Linked DNA regions of Homo sapiens: region 2 is linked to region 1. The links come from fine-mapping of genetic effects on gene expression. A gene starts in region 1. The other region holds a variant in brackets. All regions are shown on one strand. Distances are between the middles of the regions.

Region 1 (8,337 bases):
AAGATGGACAGTGGTGATGGCTGTACAACAATGTGCATGTGTTTAATGCCATTGAGCTGAACGCTCAAAAATGGTTAAAATAGTAAATCTTATGTATATTTTGCCACAAAAAGAAAATCTGCATATTCTTATTCATAGCAGTTATTTAGTTTGAGCAAAATATTTGTGTATTTCAACTAATGATGTTAGTTTGAGCTATTTTGGATTTGTTTGAATTTTATTCACTTTGTGGTTTTATTATTTGTAAGTTTGTCCTCATAACATAAAAATTTTTTGTCAGAATTAGGAGCTTGCAAGAATTTTTTTTCCTTTAAAATCAATCTGTACACGAGTTTAAAGGTCAATGGTCTACTAATGAGTGTTAGTTACTATTATGAGGCAAGTACTCTTCTAAATGAACTACATATATTAACTCAATTAGTCCTCACAGCAACCCAAAAACTTGGGTATAATTTTACCACGGAGGAAACTGAAGCACAGAAAGGGGGAGCTCACTTAACCAAGATCACTCAGCCAATAGCAGAGACAGGATTTGAAAGCAGGCAATTTGGCTCCACAGTGTGGACATATGGATATAGCTGAATAATTTAGCTCCAATTTTCCTACCTCCAATCCATCCAACCACTTATAATCACTTAAAAAAATAGCTTGGTACATAGGTTCCAATCCTCCTCCTCCACTATAGTGAAAAGAAACCTCACGGTTAAATCCAAACACCCTGGACTGACATTTAATGTCTCCCACAATCTGGACTCTTCTGACTTTCCAATTTAACCACTGAGAAGTCCCAGATTATATAAATAATCTACTAAGAACTAAAAATAAAATCCTACCCCACCCCCACAATCACCTGAACCGACTCCCTCTTGGTCAAGGGGACCCCAAAGAAACCTTAAAAACTCAGTTCTTAACCATGACAGGATGGGAGGTCAGACACACCTCGTTATACCCCTTCCTATTTGGGATGTAGACACAACAACTGACCAGCATTAATGTTAAAATAGAGATCGTAAGAGTTGCAGAACGGACTCTGTGGCAATAAGATACCAAATTATAAACAAGACCTAAGGCCATGCCAGGCAAGGGTTAAGTCACATACCCCCTACCTTTAAAAGAATGAACTATGTTCTAACTGCCACAATATTTTTTTCACTAGCACTGGCCTCCAGATAAGCAATATTGAAATAATTGCAGTTCATCCACCACCAGATGCTAACTGATTCCCCTGTTCCACAGGCTTTGATAGGACAAGAGAATGATTTCAAAAATTTTCTTTTGATAAGATCACCAACCATGGACTTGTTCTAACAGGTTTACAAGGCCTGTGTACTTAAGTACCTTTGCTTCCCTCCTTCAACTTTTGACGTACAGGGCCTAATTGTAATGCATTTAAATATTAAGTCAGCTTCCCAAAATGAATATGGAGTGCATGTAATATGCATTTTTATTCAGTACAGGTGAGCACATCTCCCTTCGTGAATATTCATAGCCCCTCCTATAACCTGTTGAATATGTATACCTAGCCCACTCATACAGCATAAATCCCTGCCCCAACCCCTCCTCCTCCAAAGTGTGGGCCTTTCTGCTTTGCCTGAGACTATGCTTCCTAGCCTGTCAGGATGGCCACTTTGCAGACTGTAACCCTTTTTAAGAAATAGTCTCTCTAAATTTGCAGATCTCATGATTTTTCAGTTGACACTACTATGGGGACTAATGAAATCTTGTGGCCAGTAAAGAAACTATTTTTCCCTGGTTCTTAAACTTCCAAGTGTGCACACAAATCCTCTGTTAGGGCAGTGTATTTTTTTAAAATGCAGATTCTGATTCAGTAGGTCAGGATGTCGCTCTAACAAACCGCCAGGTAATGCTAAAGCGTCCCATCTGTGGAGCACACCTCAAATAGCAAGGGTCTTTAATACATTTACTCTCATTTGTGGAGGAGCACACCTTTTTCCTCTCCCTTTAACCAGTCACAGCTTCCTCTACTTTCATGACCGCACGCAGACATTTTCTGTAGATCTCCTCCTTCCCATTTTCTACCAATTCTTCTCCAGTTAGCTCAGGAAAAATCCCATTCTTTCTGCACCTATGTCAAATTACTCTTGACTCAAAAATTGAAGACAGTTTATGTTTTCGAGAGGCTTCTATGTTTGAGATGATAATACATAATTACGGTTGCAGAGCTTTTCTCTCCCTCTCCTTCAATAAACCAAAAGTGCCCAGACTTTGGAGTAAAATTTTTGGGTCCCAATCCATCTCTGACAATTCCTTTCTCTGGAACCTTGGACAAGCTACCTAACTTCTCTGAGCCTCAGTTTCTTCAACTATAAAACAGGGCTAACAGTAGCACCTACCTCAGAGGAATGTCAAATTCTCCTGCAGTCTATATTAACTACTTTTCTTTTATCAACTTAGTTTTTTACCGAAGTTATTTTTCAAAGGAATTTTTATGTCATCGTAAACACAAAGTCATTATCAGTTGAGATGGTTAGCTGACCTACCAAAACAAATGCCATGAAACCAAACGGAGTTATTAAATCCCAACTAGAGATACTTCTGCATACTGGAGGCGGAATTATCTAGCTAGGGATATAGTCAAGACTTCCTCCTTGTCAGTCATCCACACAGACGACTGCGATTAAACGAGTTAATACCCTGCAATGCGTTTACAGCTGGGCGCCGTACGCGCTGCTCCCAACTCTAGGCCATCGTCATGACAGGATCAATGCCAGTTCATGCCCACTTTCTAGGGCTGGGAGTAGGAGACCGAGGATGTCTGTGGAGATTCACCCGCCTGGCCCGGGAACCCTGGCCAGCGGGCCCTGGGGGACTTGGGGTGGTCACGTACTGGACTCGGGACTTCTCTTCCCAGGGCGCCGGTGGGTCCTCACACGCTCGCCGCAGGGCCGCGATCTCAGCTTGCAAGGCGCGCACCTCTGCCAGCTCTGCGTCCATGGCGCGTTGCTGACCGCAGCCGGGCCGGCAGCGCAGCTGTCACTCCGACCTGCGCGCTTCACCCGCGCTTCAAGCCTCGCGCGCGCTCCCGGCGCGGACCATCCCAGAGCTCACGCGGAGGGGAGGCGGGAGAGCTCCGCGTGACCCCAGCGGCCCTGCACGTCCAACTCCGCTCTCGCACGAGAGCCTGAGTCCTCCACTTCCCCGCACACGTTTCCCTGGCTGTCTAAGCAGTGGCTATACTTTCTCTGGAGAGCGCGTTCTTTGCTACTCCAAGCCCAAGCGCTCCGCTGCTCACCCTAGCCGGCAGCCTTGGAGCCGCCCGGCCGCGTGCCTCACTAAAGAGGCAGGGCTGGGATCACGTGGAGGGGAGCGCCTCTTTATTTTTTTCACCTACTTCCTCTCTTACGCCGACCTAGTCCAGGAATTGGTACACACAGCGATAGTGTTCAATAGAAACTAGGGGATTTTGGTTTAGGCTCTTTTGCAGTCGTTGAGGGGGAGGTGACGGAGGCGTCAGGGAAGGTGGGAGGACGGAAAAGGAAATTAAAAGCTCTTGGGAACTGAATTGTGGTAACGGAACCTTAGGAGGCTGGGTTGGAAATCGAGTAGGAAGGAAGAGAGGATGCTCCGTTGGGACACGTGACCAGAAGTTAGGGGCTGCAGCGGCGCTGGCTTTAGGTGAACGACGTGGTGAGGAGTGGGTTTCGGGCATGAGAAGTCACAGGGCCGTTTCCTAGTCTCTCTTCACTTCTTTGGGTCTTCTCAGAGAAAGAAGGCTGCCGTGGGTAGGCTGGGGGCGGAGACTATCGGGAAGAGGTAGGCCGAAGTTCTGCCCAGAATACACGCCATGTGGTGGACGCTGGTTGGGAGTCTCTTCTGGAAAGAGTCTGTCAGCTCTTGGGGAAGGGAAGGGCGAGAGCTGAGCGCCTGCCGGGTGCTAAACGAAATGAGAGATACTATGATGGGCCCTAGTACCTCTGGAAAAGTTTTCCTGAGTCCCCTGTGATACAGCAACCTTCATAGTATAGTGTTAAGAATTCCAAGTTCTGAAGGTAGACCTGCATTATAATCCTGGATTCACTAATTTTCGGTATGGCATTGAGGAAGTGACTTAACCTCTTCTGCTCTCCTGAAAAATGGGAAACATGCAAACTACTTTGTACAATGCAGGCACATAGCAAAAACACAAGTCTGTATTCGCTATATCCCTTGATCTTTGTGTCTGAACCCCACTTTGCAGCACTTTTATTGTGACATAATATTGTGCCATTTGTTTTATTCTTTTGTGACTATAAGGAGCTCCTAGCCTCTCTATTCACTTCTTTGGGTCTTCTAGGAGGAAGAAGGCTGGGGTGGGTAGGTTGGGGGTGGAGACAATTAGGAAGAGGTAGGCTAGCTCTTTTTATCTTTTAGTGCGTTACATCCTGTTTCTGTCAGACTTTGTTAAAGACAGTAAATGAATGTATGAGTGAGTCAAGGAAAAACATCTAAAAACATGAATACATAAAATTAAGAGGGATAGAGTGTAATATTATGGCCATTTGGAGGAAAAAAACTCTGTCTGTACCTGTGTCTATATGGGTATGGGGTTGCTGTTCCAAAGTGCATTCATGAAAGATGTGGATGTAGGGCTTGGGCAAAACCTCGAAGACTAAAATTTGGAAGTAATACAATAGGAAGTGAAATACAGATCCAGGAGACGGATTTGATACAGAAGGTTCAGAGGAAGTAGTTGTTTTGTTAGATTTTAGAAGAACTAAGGGAAAGAACTCTTCTCTGTATACAGAAAATTACTTTTCCCACTGAAACACACCCAAGTATATGCCCAGCCTTCATGAAAGTGAACAGAGAAACGAAGCGCCTTTATGTGGGTGGCCTTAGCCAGGACATTTCTGAGGCAGACCTACAAAATCAGTTCAGCAGATTTGGAGAAGTTTCGGATGTGGAGATCATCACACGGAAAGATGACCAAGGTAATTTATGGTCCTTCACTGGGCAGTTATAGGCAGACATAACTCAGGTTAAGTGCTAGAAAATAAAACAACCCCAAGATAAATGTTAGCTCTGAACACCAAAAGTTTTAAGTGATGTTGTGGAGGTATAATGTGTGATGTGGAACTTGACCAGAATTTGTTTCTGAAATAAGAAAAAATTCCAAATTCTAAAACATCTGATTTCAGAAACATATTAACTTCCAGTTTTGAGAACTAGAATTTTCTAACATGGATTAAGTGTCCCGTTAAGTAGACTATCACTAGCATACAATCAAAATGTTTCCTTATCTGACTACTGGACATTTTCTTCTTTTTTTTTTTGGAATATTTTGATAATTATGCTTATTTTTATAGCCAATAAAAAACAAGGTTTATCTTTGAAATAATAAGTTTTCAAGAGCTATTTTTTTTTTTAATTTAGAAACAACCGTTTTTACATTGCTCTCTGGATAAGAATTTAAATAAATTGTTTTGTTTGTTTGTTTGTTTGTTTTTTAGGAAACCCACAGAAAGTTTTTGCATATATCAACATCAGTGTAGCAGAAGCGGACCTGAAAAAATGTAAGATCATCATATATTTTCTATACTGTTTGCCAGTTTGTATGACTCTGTAACTTGGAATAACTGGTTCTAAATCTAAACCTCCACAGCCATTTTTCACGTTATCCAGAGGGACAGCAGTGATGAAGAGAATTCCAGTATCGTATAACTCAGCAGGTTTAGGTCCATTCCATTTGGCATCAGCAGACATGGTAGCACTTTACTGGTGGGTTTACTTAAAACTGCTATTCTCAAATATTTTGGACAAGGGACCAAACTTTCATAGAAACTGCCTGTTACATATATCCCACTGAATATCATGCCACATTCCCCCTCAGTCTGATCATTTCTTTGACAGCTAATCCTTGTCACTAAACACTCTTGAGGGGGCTTTAAAATACACCCTTGTAAGACCGTATCCTTGAAATTGTGAAATCTCTTGTTGATAAGTTTAGTAAAGTCAAGGGCAAACAGTGGCCTTCAATGAAGAATGGGAGATAATCCATACTGCCGCTGACACAGTAACATATTCTAGTTATTTGGAGGCCAAAAAGTGAAAAAAGACACGGAAAATAAGTAAAGGGAACACGCTAATAGAGGAAGAGGGCAATCAGTCTTTTGTAATTTCATTTGCGAAAAGATTGCTTTATTCTATTTTACATTGAGGAATATATGTGATAAATGTGAAGTTGTGGTTAAGAATACATCAACTAGGCTTTGTGACCTGTGGCAAGTTACTTAAACTTCTCAGCCCAAGTTTGCTTATGTGATGAATGACAAAAGATAGTGCTTGCCTCATAATATTTCTGTGAGAATTAAATTAAATGATACATTTGCAATACTTTGGGAGGCTAAGGCAGGTGGATCACTTGAGGTCAGGAGTTTGAGACCAGCCTGGCCAACATGGTGAAACCCCATCTTTACTAAAAATACCACAATTAGCTGGGTGTGGTGGCAGACACCTGTAATCCCAGCTACTTGGGAGGCTGAGACAGGAGAATCACCAGGGAGGCAGAGGTTGCAGTGAGCCAAGATAGTGCCACTGCACTCCAGCCTGGGCGACAGAAGGACACTCTGTCTCAAAAAGAAAAGATAAATTTGTACTTAGTACAGTATCTACCACCTACAAAATTCTGTTAATGGTATTATTAAGGAAGCTGACGGCAGATGCTCAGAGAAATCAATTACTACGGCATAGTAATTCAAACAGTTCAGTCACTCATAGTTAATTCATCTGCAAGTTCTACAGTGATAATTAGTATGAGGTGATAAATAAAATTAAGGTGCTGTAGGATTCCAGAGTGTCCTCTGATTCACCTGAAAAGATGATTGTTTTATAGTTACAGGAAATATATGTTTTATAGTTACAGGAAATAACAATAAAATATACATTAAATATCAGTTATTCAGAGGTTCCTGACATTTGTTTACAAACAAATTGCAAATAAATTTTGCTTTACTTTTTACACATTTTGCCTCATTCCAATCTAGTAACACTGTGAGATAGGGAGTGTAAAGACTCTTTTGGTAAGTTGTCAAGATGAAACAAGAGCCTAGGCTCCCTCTCTCCAGGTCTCATTTCTTTTCTTCCACTTCCCCTGGATCTCTTTGTGATAAACAAGCCTGCTTTTCTTGATACTAAATAATTAGAAAAAGCACAAGCTGAAATATATTTTTACATTGCCATGTACTTGTAATAATTCTTTACTTTATAGGTATGTCTGTTTTAAATAAAACAAAATGGAAAGGTGGAACATTACAAATTCAACTAGCAAAAGAAAGCTTTCTGCACAGGTAAGTTTTGCTCCACATGGATTTAAGCCCTATTTTTTTTATATTGTAAGTGGTTTTATATATTATTTCAAATTATCAAGTAATATAGTATTATATTCTTAACAAATTCAAACATATAAGTAGAGCTGAAATCCCTTTCAACTCTGAATCCCCTTCACCCCAGACGAACAAAAAGGATAATTTCATGCATTTACGTATGTATGTAATAAGCTATAAAAGTATATATGTACTTATTTTCTCTGTTAATGAGCTATAAAAGCATATATGTACTTATTTTCTCTTTGTTAACACACCCTTTTGTGGCAATGTAGATCTTCTCCCTTTATAACAATTGTTAGTAGTATTTCAGAAAATGGTTATACCACAATGTAGTGGTCCCTTCCCACTGATGACTGTTTCTACTTTTTCATGGTCATAGATGATCCTGGAGCACATATCCTATGTATATGCAGGTGTTTCTCTCAGTTTATATCAGAAAATGGAGTTGCTGAATCTTAGCATTGTCTGCATTTAAATTTTAGTAGACTACTAAATTGCATATGTTGATTTTGACTGTTAATGCTAGTGTCATACCAAAATATAAAGGAAATAGGAGATCACTGTATGACAGGCATAAGAGTGATTATGCAAGTGATTTAAGAGCAAGACAATGTATTATAAAAACCATTAGAGCTTTTAAAATCCTAAAGGTATTTTCAGGAAGAAAAGGTATTGTTGGGGAGTTTTCAAAATAGGAAACAATTTAAGAATATACAGATAGAGGCCGGGCACGGTGGCTCACGCCTGTAATCCCAGCACTTTGGGAGGCCGAGGCGGGTGGATCACCTGAGGTCAGGAGTTCAAGACCAGCCTGGCTAAAGTGGTGAAACCCCGTCTCTACTAAAAATACAAAAATTAGCTGGTTGTGGTCATGGGCTCCTGTAATCCCAGCTACTTGGGAGGCTGAGGCAGGAGAATCACTTGAACCTGGGAGGCGGAGGTTGCAGTGAGCCTACATTGTGCCATTGCACTCCAGCCTGGGCAACAGGAGTGAAACTCTTGTCTCAAACAA
Region 2 (8,337 bases), 110 kb after region 1:
CTGAAGTTGCTTATCAGCTTAAGGAGATTTTGGGCTGAGACAATGGGGTTTTCTAGATATACAATCATGTCATCTGCAAACAGGGACAATTTGACTTCCTCTTTTCCTAATTGAATACCCTTTATTTCCTTCTCCTGCCTAATTGCCCTGGCCAGAACTTCCAACACTATGTTGAATAGGAGTGGTGAGAGAGGGCATCCCTGTCTTGTGCCAGTTTTCCAAGGGAATGCTTCCAGTTTTTGCCCATTCAGTATGATATTGGCTGTGGGTTTGTCATAGATAGCTCTTATTATTTTGAAATATGTCCCATCAATACCTAATTTATTGAGAGTTTTTAGCATGAAGGGTTGTTGAATTTTGTCAAAGGCTTTTTCTGCATCTATTGAGATAATCATGTGGTTTTTGTCTTTGGCTCTGTTTATATGCTGGATTACATTTACTGATTTGCGTATATTGAACCAGCCTTGCATCCCAGGGATGAAGCCCACTTGATCATGGTGGATAAGCTTTTTAATGTGCTGCTGGATTCGTTTTGCCAGTATTTTATTGAGGATTTTTGCATCAATGTTCATCAAGGATATTGGTCTAAAATTCTCTTTTTTGGTTGTGTCTCTGCCTGGCTTTGGTATCAGAATGATGCTGGCCTCATAAAAGGAGTTAGGGAGGATTCCCTCTTTTTCTGTTGATTGGAATAGTTTCAGAAGGAATGGTACCAGTTCCTCCTTGTACCTCTGGTAGAATTCGGCTGTGAATCCATCTGGTCCTGGACTCTTTTTGGTTGGTAAGCTATTGATTATTGCCACAATTTCAGAGTCTGTTATTGGTCTATTCAGAGATTCAACTTCTTCCTGGTTTAGTCTTGGGAGAATGTATGTGTCGAGGAATTTATCCATTTCTTCTAGATTTTCTAGTTTATTTGCGTAGAGGTGTTTGTAGTATTCTCTGATGGTAGTTTGTATTTCTGTGGGATCGGTGGTGATATCCCCTTTATCATTTTGTATTGCGTCTATTTGATTCTGCTCTCTTTTTTTCTTTATTAGTCTTGCTAGTGGTCTGTCAATTTTGTTGATCCTTTCAAAAAACCAGCTCCTGGATTCATTAATTTTTTGAAGGGTTTTTTGTGTCTCTATTTCCTTCAGTTCTGCTCTGATTTTAGTTATTTCTTGCCTTCTGCTAGCTTTTGAATGTGTTTGCTCTTGCTTTTCTAGTTCTTTTAATTGTGATGTTAGGGTGTCAATTTTGGATCTTTCCTGCTTTCTCTTGTGGGCATTTAGTGCTATAAATTTCCCTCTACACACTGCTTTGAATGCGTCTCAGAGATTCTGGTATGTTGTGTCTTTGTTCTCATTGGTTTCAAAGAACATCTTTATTTCTGCCTTCATTTTGTTATGTACCCATTAGTCATTCAGGAGCAGGTTGTTCAGTTTCCATGTAGTTGAGCGGTTTTGAGTGAGATTCTTAATCCTGAGTTCTAGTTTGATTGCACTGTGGTCTGAGAGACAGTTTGTTATAATTTCTGTTCTTTTACATTTGCTGAGGAGAGCTTTACTTCCAAGTATGTGGTCAATTTTGGAATAGGTGTGGTGTGGTGCTGAAAAAAATGTATATTCTGTTAATTTGGGGTGGAGAGTTCTGTAGATGTCTACTAGGTCCGCTTGGTGCAGAGCTGAGTTCAATTCCTGGGTATCCTTGTTGACTTTCTGTCTCGTTGATCTGTCTAATGTTGACAGTGGGGTGTTAAAGTCTCCCATTATTAATGTGTGGGAGTCTAAGTCTCTTTGTAGGTCACTCAGGACTTGCTTTATGAATCTGGGTGCTCCTGTATTGGGTGCATATATATTTAGGATAGTTAGCTCTTCTTGTTGAATTGATCCCTTTACCATTATGTAATGGCCTTCTTTGTCTCTTTTGATCTTTGTTGGTTTAAAGTCTGTTTTATCCGAGACTAGGATTGCAACCCCTGCCTTTTTTTGTTTTCCATTTGCTTGGTAGATCTTCCTCCATCCTTTTATTTTGAGCCTATGTGTGTCTCTGCACATGAGATGGGTTTCCTGAATACAGCACACTGATGGGTCTTGACTCTTTATCCAATTTGCCAGTCTGTGTCTTTTAATTGGAGCATTTAGTCCATTTACATTTAAAGTTAATATTGTTATGTGTGAATTTGATCCTGTCATTATGATGTTAGCTGTTTATTTTGCTCGTTAGTTGATGTAGTTTCTTCCTAGTCTCGATGGTCTTTACATTTTGGCATGATTTTGCAGCAGCTGGTACCGGTTGTTCCTTTCCATGTTTAGCGCTTCCTTCAGGAGCTCTTTTAGGGCAGGCCTGGTGGTGACAAAATCTCTCAGCATTTGCTTGTCTGTAAAGTATTTTATTTCTCCTTCTCTTATGAAGCTTAGTTTGGCTGGATATGAAATTCTGGGTTGAAAATTCTTTTCTTTAAGAATGTTGAATATTGGCCCCCACTCTCTTCTGGCTTGTAGGGTTTCTGCCGAGAGATCTGCTGTTAGTCTGATGGGCTTCCCTTTGTGGGTAACCCGACCTTTCTCTCTGGCTGCCCTTAACATTTTTTCCTTCATTTCAACTTTGGTGAATCTGACAATTATGTGTCTTGGAGTTGCTCTTCTCGAGGAGTATCTTTGTGGCGTTCTCTGTATTTCCTGAATCTGAACGTTGGCCTGCCTCGCTAGATAGGGGAAGTTCTCCTGGATAATATCCTGCAGAGTGTTTTCCAACTTGGTTCCATTCTCCCCATCACTTTCAGGTACACCAGTCAGACGTAGATTTGGTCTTTTCACATAGTCCCATATTTCTTGGAGGCTTTACTCATTTCGTTTTATTCTTTTTTCTCTAAACTTCCCTTCTCGCTTCATTTCATTCATTTCATCTTCCATCGCTGATATTCTTTCTTCCAGTTGATCGCATCGGCTCCTGAGGCTTCTGCATTCTTCACGTAGTTCTCGAGCCTTGGTTTTCAGCTCCATCAGCTCCTTTAAGCACTTCTCTGTATTGGTTATTCTAGTTATACATTCTTCTAAATTTTTTTCAAAGTTTTCAACTTCTTTGCCTTTGGTTTGTATGTCCTCCCATAGCTCAGAGTAATTTGATCGTCTGAAGCCCTCTTCTCTCAGCTCGTCAAAGTCATTCTCCATCCAGCTTTGTTCCGTTGCTGGTGAGGAACTGTGTTCCTTTGGAGGAGGAGAGGCACTCTGCTTTTTAGAGTTTCCAGTTTTTCTGTTCTGTTTTTTCCCCATCTTTGTGGTTTTATCTACTTTTGGTCTTTGATGATGGTGACGTACAGATGGGTTTTTGGTGTGGATGTCCTTTCTGTTTGTTAGTTTTCCTTCTGACAGACAGGACCCTCAACTGCAAGTCTGTTGGAATACCCTGCCGTGTGAGGTATCAGTGTGCCCCTGCTGGGGGGTGCCTCCCAGATAGGCTGCTCGGGGGTCAGGGGTCAGGGACCCACTTGAGGAGGCAGTCTGCCCGTTCTCAGATCTCCAGCTGC[A/G]TGCTGGGAGAACCACTGCTCTCTTCAAAGCTGTCAGACAGGGACATTTAAGTCTGCAGAGGTTACTGCTGTCTTTTTGTTTGTCTGTGCCCTGCCCCCAGAGGTGGAGCCTACAGAGGCATGCAGGCCTCCTTGAGCTGTGGTGGGCTCCACCCAATTCGAGCTTCCCGGCTGCTTTGTTTACCTAAGCAAGCCTGGGCAATGGCGGGCGCCCCTCCCCCAGCCTTGCTGCCGCCTTGCAGTTTGATCTCAGACTGCTATGCTAGCAATCAGCGAGACTCCGTGGGCGTAGGACCCTCCGAGCTAGGTGCGGGGTATAATCTCGTGGTGCGCCGTTTTTTAAGCCCATCGGAAAAGCGCAGTATTCGGGTGGGAGTGACCCAATTTTCCAGGTGCCGTCCGTCACCCCTTTCTTTGACTCGGAAAGGGAACTCCCTGACCCCTTGCACTTCCCAAGTGAGGCAATGCCTCGCCCTGCTTCGGCTCGCGCACGGTGCGTGCACCCACTGACCTGCGCCCACTGTCTGGCACTCCCTAGTGAGATGAACCCGGTACCTCAGATGGAAATTCAGAAATCACTGTCTTCTGCATCGCTCACCCTGGGAGTTGTAGACCGGAGCTGTTCCTATTTGGCCATCTTGGCTCCTCCCCCAATTTTTGTAATTTTAGTAGAGACAGGGTTTCACCATGTTGGCCAGGCTGGTCTCAAACTCCTGACCTCAGGTGATCCACCCACTTGGGCCTCCCAAAGTGCTGGGATTACGGGGGTGAGCCACCACACCCAGACCATTCTATTCTTTGAGTTTCCGTCTTTCTGTTTACATTGCCCGTCTGCTCTGCTTGTTCTGTTATGTTTCTGTTGAAGCCCAGTTTTAAGAAGCATACGTCTAGTTCCTTGGAGACACTGACAACCCAGACACACTTTAAACTCAATCATTTTGGACCATAGGGAGAATGTTAAGAAAGCTGTGACTGGGTCTGCGTGGTGGCTCACTCGTGTAATCCCAGCACTTTGGGAGGCTGAGGTGGGCAGAGTTCAAGACCAGCATGGCCAATATGGTGAAACCCCATCTCTACTAAAATTAGCTGGACATGGTGGCACATGCCTGTAATCCCAGCTACTTGGGAGGCTGAGGCAGGAGAATCTCTTGAACCTGGGAGGCAGAGGTTGCAGTGTGCTGAGATTGCATCACTGCACTCCAGCCTGGGCGACAAGAGTTAAACTCCATCTCAGAAAAAAAATCTATGGCATTCCCAGTCATACACAAAGGCCAGGAGTTGTGATGGAGACAGGATCTGTCTATCCCTACTCCAAAACAAAGCTAAGTGAGGTGATTTTCTCTGTATTGGTTTCTGTGGCTGCTGCAACAAATTTCCACAAATGGGATGGCTCAAGTCATCTCACAGCTCTGGAGGCCAGACACTGAAATTAGGGTGTCAGAAAGGCCACAGTCTCTCTGAAGGCTCTGTGGGAGAATTCCTTATATACTTCTTCTAGCTTATGGTGGCGCCAGGCATCCCTTGACTTGTGGCCACATCACTTCAGTCTCTGACTCCGTGGTCACATTGCCTCCTTCTCTTCTGTTTCCTCTTTTTCCAAATAAAGTGAACATTCACAGCTCCTGGGAATTTAGAACCTGGGCATATCTTTGGAAGGCCATTATTAACCGATTACATTCTCTTCACTTTTTCTCTTGTGGTGAAGGAACTTACTCAAATTAACCCTTTTGCTATGGGTTTCTTATTTGAAGTTCCAGTTTCTTCAGCAGAGATTTGTTGGACTTCCCGGTTTGTATATACCGGAGGCTTTTCTTTCCCTGCTTTCCTAGCTCTTTAGTGCCAAAAGCATTAAGCCACCAGACCCCATGGGAGTCATTATTTTTGGCCTCTGTGTAATTCTCCCGTTTTCTTCCTGTGCAGCTTTTTTTTTTAAATTTAGTTGCATATCGTACTTTTAAATTTTCTGTCATGATGTTAAATACTAAAGCTCTATTTCTTCTTGGGTTCCTCCTTCCCTCCCTGGGTTTATTTTCAGTGACTCTCCTTTGTCGTTTTCCCTCTCATCTCATCATTGGGCCTCATCATCCATCTAAGTCACCAGTCTGCAGTCTGTACTCTTCACCAGAGCTATCTTCATGAACATTCCTGCCTTGATTTTGTTCCCTTGCTTAGAGCCCCCAAAGCTCCTTATTCTCTTATGCCTCAGAATCTTCCCTTCCACACAAGATCCTTCCTGCTCTGGGCCTTCCCTGTCTTGCTAATTCTGTCCATGAGTCTTTCACTCTATCAAAGGCTTTTTTCACTCTCCCTCGAACACACTTGGCTCTTTCATTGTGGTATGGTAGTAAAGATCATCTAATAATGTAGCTTTCTATTTTGATAAGCTTATATAAAACTTTAGAGATAATTCTTAACTCTTCTTGTCCCTCAAATCCTTTGGTCACCAAGTACTGTTGTGCAGTGGAGCTGAAGATGACATTTATCTCTCACTTGTTCTTGCAAGCAAATGCAGTGGCATGATTGAACCTGGTCAGGGGTAGAACCATGTCTGTATGAATTATGTATTTATAATACTACCTGCAATTCACAGAACCATTCTTAACCTGTGCTGCCTTTCTGTATTCTCTTTACTCTGTGACGTTAGTTAGGCAAAAGTTTAGTGGGTGAGAACTTTTAAATGTTTAGTGATTTATCTAAGATTACCACAAAGTTGGAACTTTTTCTAATTCAGTATCTTTCCAATCTAGTATCTATAGCTTCGTTTTCATTATGCCTTTTCTCTCAGAATTGTCTTTCATAAAGTATCAATAACTTGGTAAATTAGAAGAGCCACAAAATGTTGACCATTTTAGAAACCCTTAGATGTCTTCTTGCTTGCTCCACTAAACTCTAAACATCATCTCCAGGTCCTGTAATTATCTATTAAGGAAGTAGCTTTGAGAGTATTCTCACATCTAGGATTGCTGCTAGGTAGGACAAGAGCTATTTTTAAAGGAAGCTCATCTGTTTGCTTTAAATTCAGATCTGACTAGAAGCAAAATGCTCCACAGTAGGCAGATAACTTTAAATTTTCTTTTTTTTTGTTTTTGAGTTGTATATTCAGTATATTTCAATCAATTGCATTTGGGTTATATTTTTGGATGCTCAGAGTTTTCGTCATTGGCCATATTGGATCCTGTATTCTTTAACATGATCCTTTGTCTTTGGTAAATTCTTGCTTTCTCACGTAGCAACATGTCCTAGGCTTATTATGTACTTTTACTTCTCCAGACGTAGAAAATAGCTGTTCTTCAAATTATAGAGAATCATATTTTGAAACCACATATCTGGGATACTGAGTTGGCACAGCCTCTAGGCTTTTTTTGTAGACATAGGAAGTATCTGTGTATGAGGAAAAATAACCATCTTGGCAGTACCCAGAGTTAGCCAAACTGTGAAGTGATGGCATAGTCCTCCAGAAGGCTCCAGGAGTCTGCCCGATATCTAACTCCACCTGCAAGGAGTGAGGATTCTACTCAGGGAAAGATCCACACAAGACCCCCATCACTGCTGGCACCAACTGCAAGTTCCAGGGATTTTCCTAAACCACCCTCAGGTTCAGTAACCTGCTAGGAGGACTCAGACTCACTAAAAGGTATTACACTCATGGTTTGAATTAGGGTAGGGAAAGGATACACGTTAGAACCAGCGAGAGTGAGAGAGAGAGAGAGACCCTGGAGTCATGGATAATGTTTCTTCCTCTCATCCCTTACATCTGACAACACAGAGACTATATTACCAACCAGGGAAGCTCACTCGAGCCTTGGTGTCCAGTTTCTGTTGAGGTTTCATTCTGTAGGCATGATTGCTGTCTTTCTCAACTGATATACCATGTGACCCAAAGTCCCCATCCTAAATCATATACTTGGTCTTTCTGTCCTGGCCAGCACTACCCTGAATTGTCTCATTAGCAACAACTGTCAGGTTTGGTGAACATACCCACCATGAGAAACAAAGATTCCTACCAGGAAATTCCAAGGATTTAGAGGTTCACCTCAGGAGCTGGGACAAAAGGCAGAACTCTTAGGATAAGGCCAAATTCCTTACTACACAAGCAGTTAACATTTTTTTAAATATTCACCCCCAATAGGTAAAATACTGATTTTTTTTCAACTTTTTCTTTCCATTCTAGAAATTACAGAAGACATCCCCGTGAAGACTTTGAATATGAAGACTGTGTATGTTTCTGTGTTACCAACAACAGCAGACTTCTAGCATGTACTTATCAATGTTGTTCGGTCAGCCCTTCCCTAATTACACCTATCCCCTACACATACATGCACATAGACACACACATGAACACACTGAAGATATTTCCTTCAGGTGTGTGTAAAATATGCTGCTTGGATTGAAATTCAAATGGGATTGATTAGTCAAGTAACTTGAGACCTCACAGTAATCTTCACACTTAACCTTAGACACCTATGCAGTCATGTTGGGAGCAGGTTACAATGTTACTTCAGCCCACAGTTTATTTCTATACTTGAGTTCTTAAGTACAGAAGATAGAAGTGATTTAAATGGCATAGTATATATATCATTTTCTGGCCTTTTAAAATTTATTTGAGACCTCTTGATGAAATGGACATATTATATATTTCTGCCACCTGGATTTTCCTGGATAATTTGATGGAATATTTTAAGTTTCAGTAAATCAGAACAATAAACAAACTCAGATATAAATGTGTTGAAAGTAATTCATTCTCCCATAGATAAATGAAACTTGAAATGTGTAAACTTTGAAGAACATAAAAACTTCATGGTGGTTTCTTATTAAGACAGTGGACT

What was found. PIP is the estimated chance that this variant, and not a neighbour inherited with it, causes the effect.
Region 2: its variant is fine-mapped to the expression of NOL8 in whole blood (TOPMed, PIP above 0.99).

The regions. Positions count from the first base shown.
Region 1 is chr9:92,320,617-92,328,953 of GRCh38, reverse strand. NOL8 (nucleolar protein 8) reads left to right here and starts at 3,604. Exons shown (of 17, transcript NM_017948.6): 1 at 3,604-3,648; 2 at 4,745-4,931; 3 at 5,451-5,513; 4 at 7,208-7,286. The coding sequence starts at 4,793. It overlaps CENPP (centromere protein P), which reads right to left and starts at 3,001. Exons shown (of 8, transcript NM_001012267.3): 1 at 2,849-3,001. The coding sequence starts at 2,955. RefSeq lists enhancers at 3,396-3,505, 3,536-3,655, 3,434-4,322.
Region 2 is chr9:92,210,235-92,218,571 of GRCh38, reverse strand. IARS1 (isoleucyl-tRNA synthetase 1) reads left to right here. Exons shown (of 34, transcript NM_002161.6): 34 at 7,683-8,337. The coding sequence ends at 7,765. Among named protein-coding and RNA genes, the nearest start is that of LINC00475, 73 kb to the right of the region's middle. RefSeq lists an enhancer at 3,301-4,197. The variant A/G (reference allele first, on the strand shown) is at 3,512.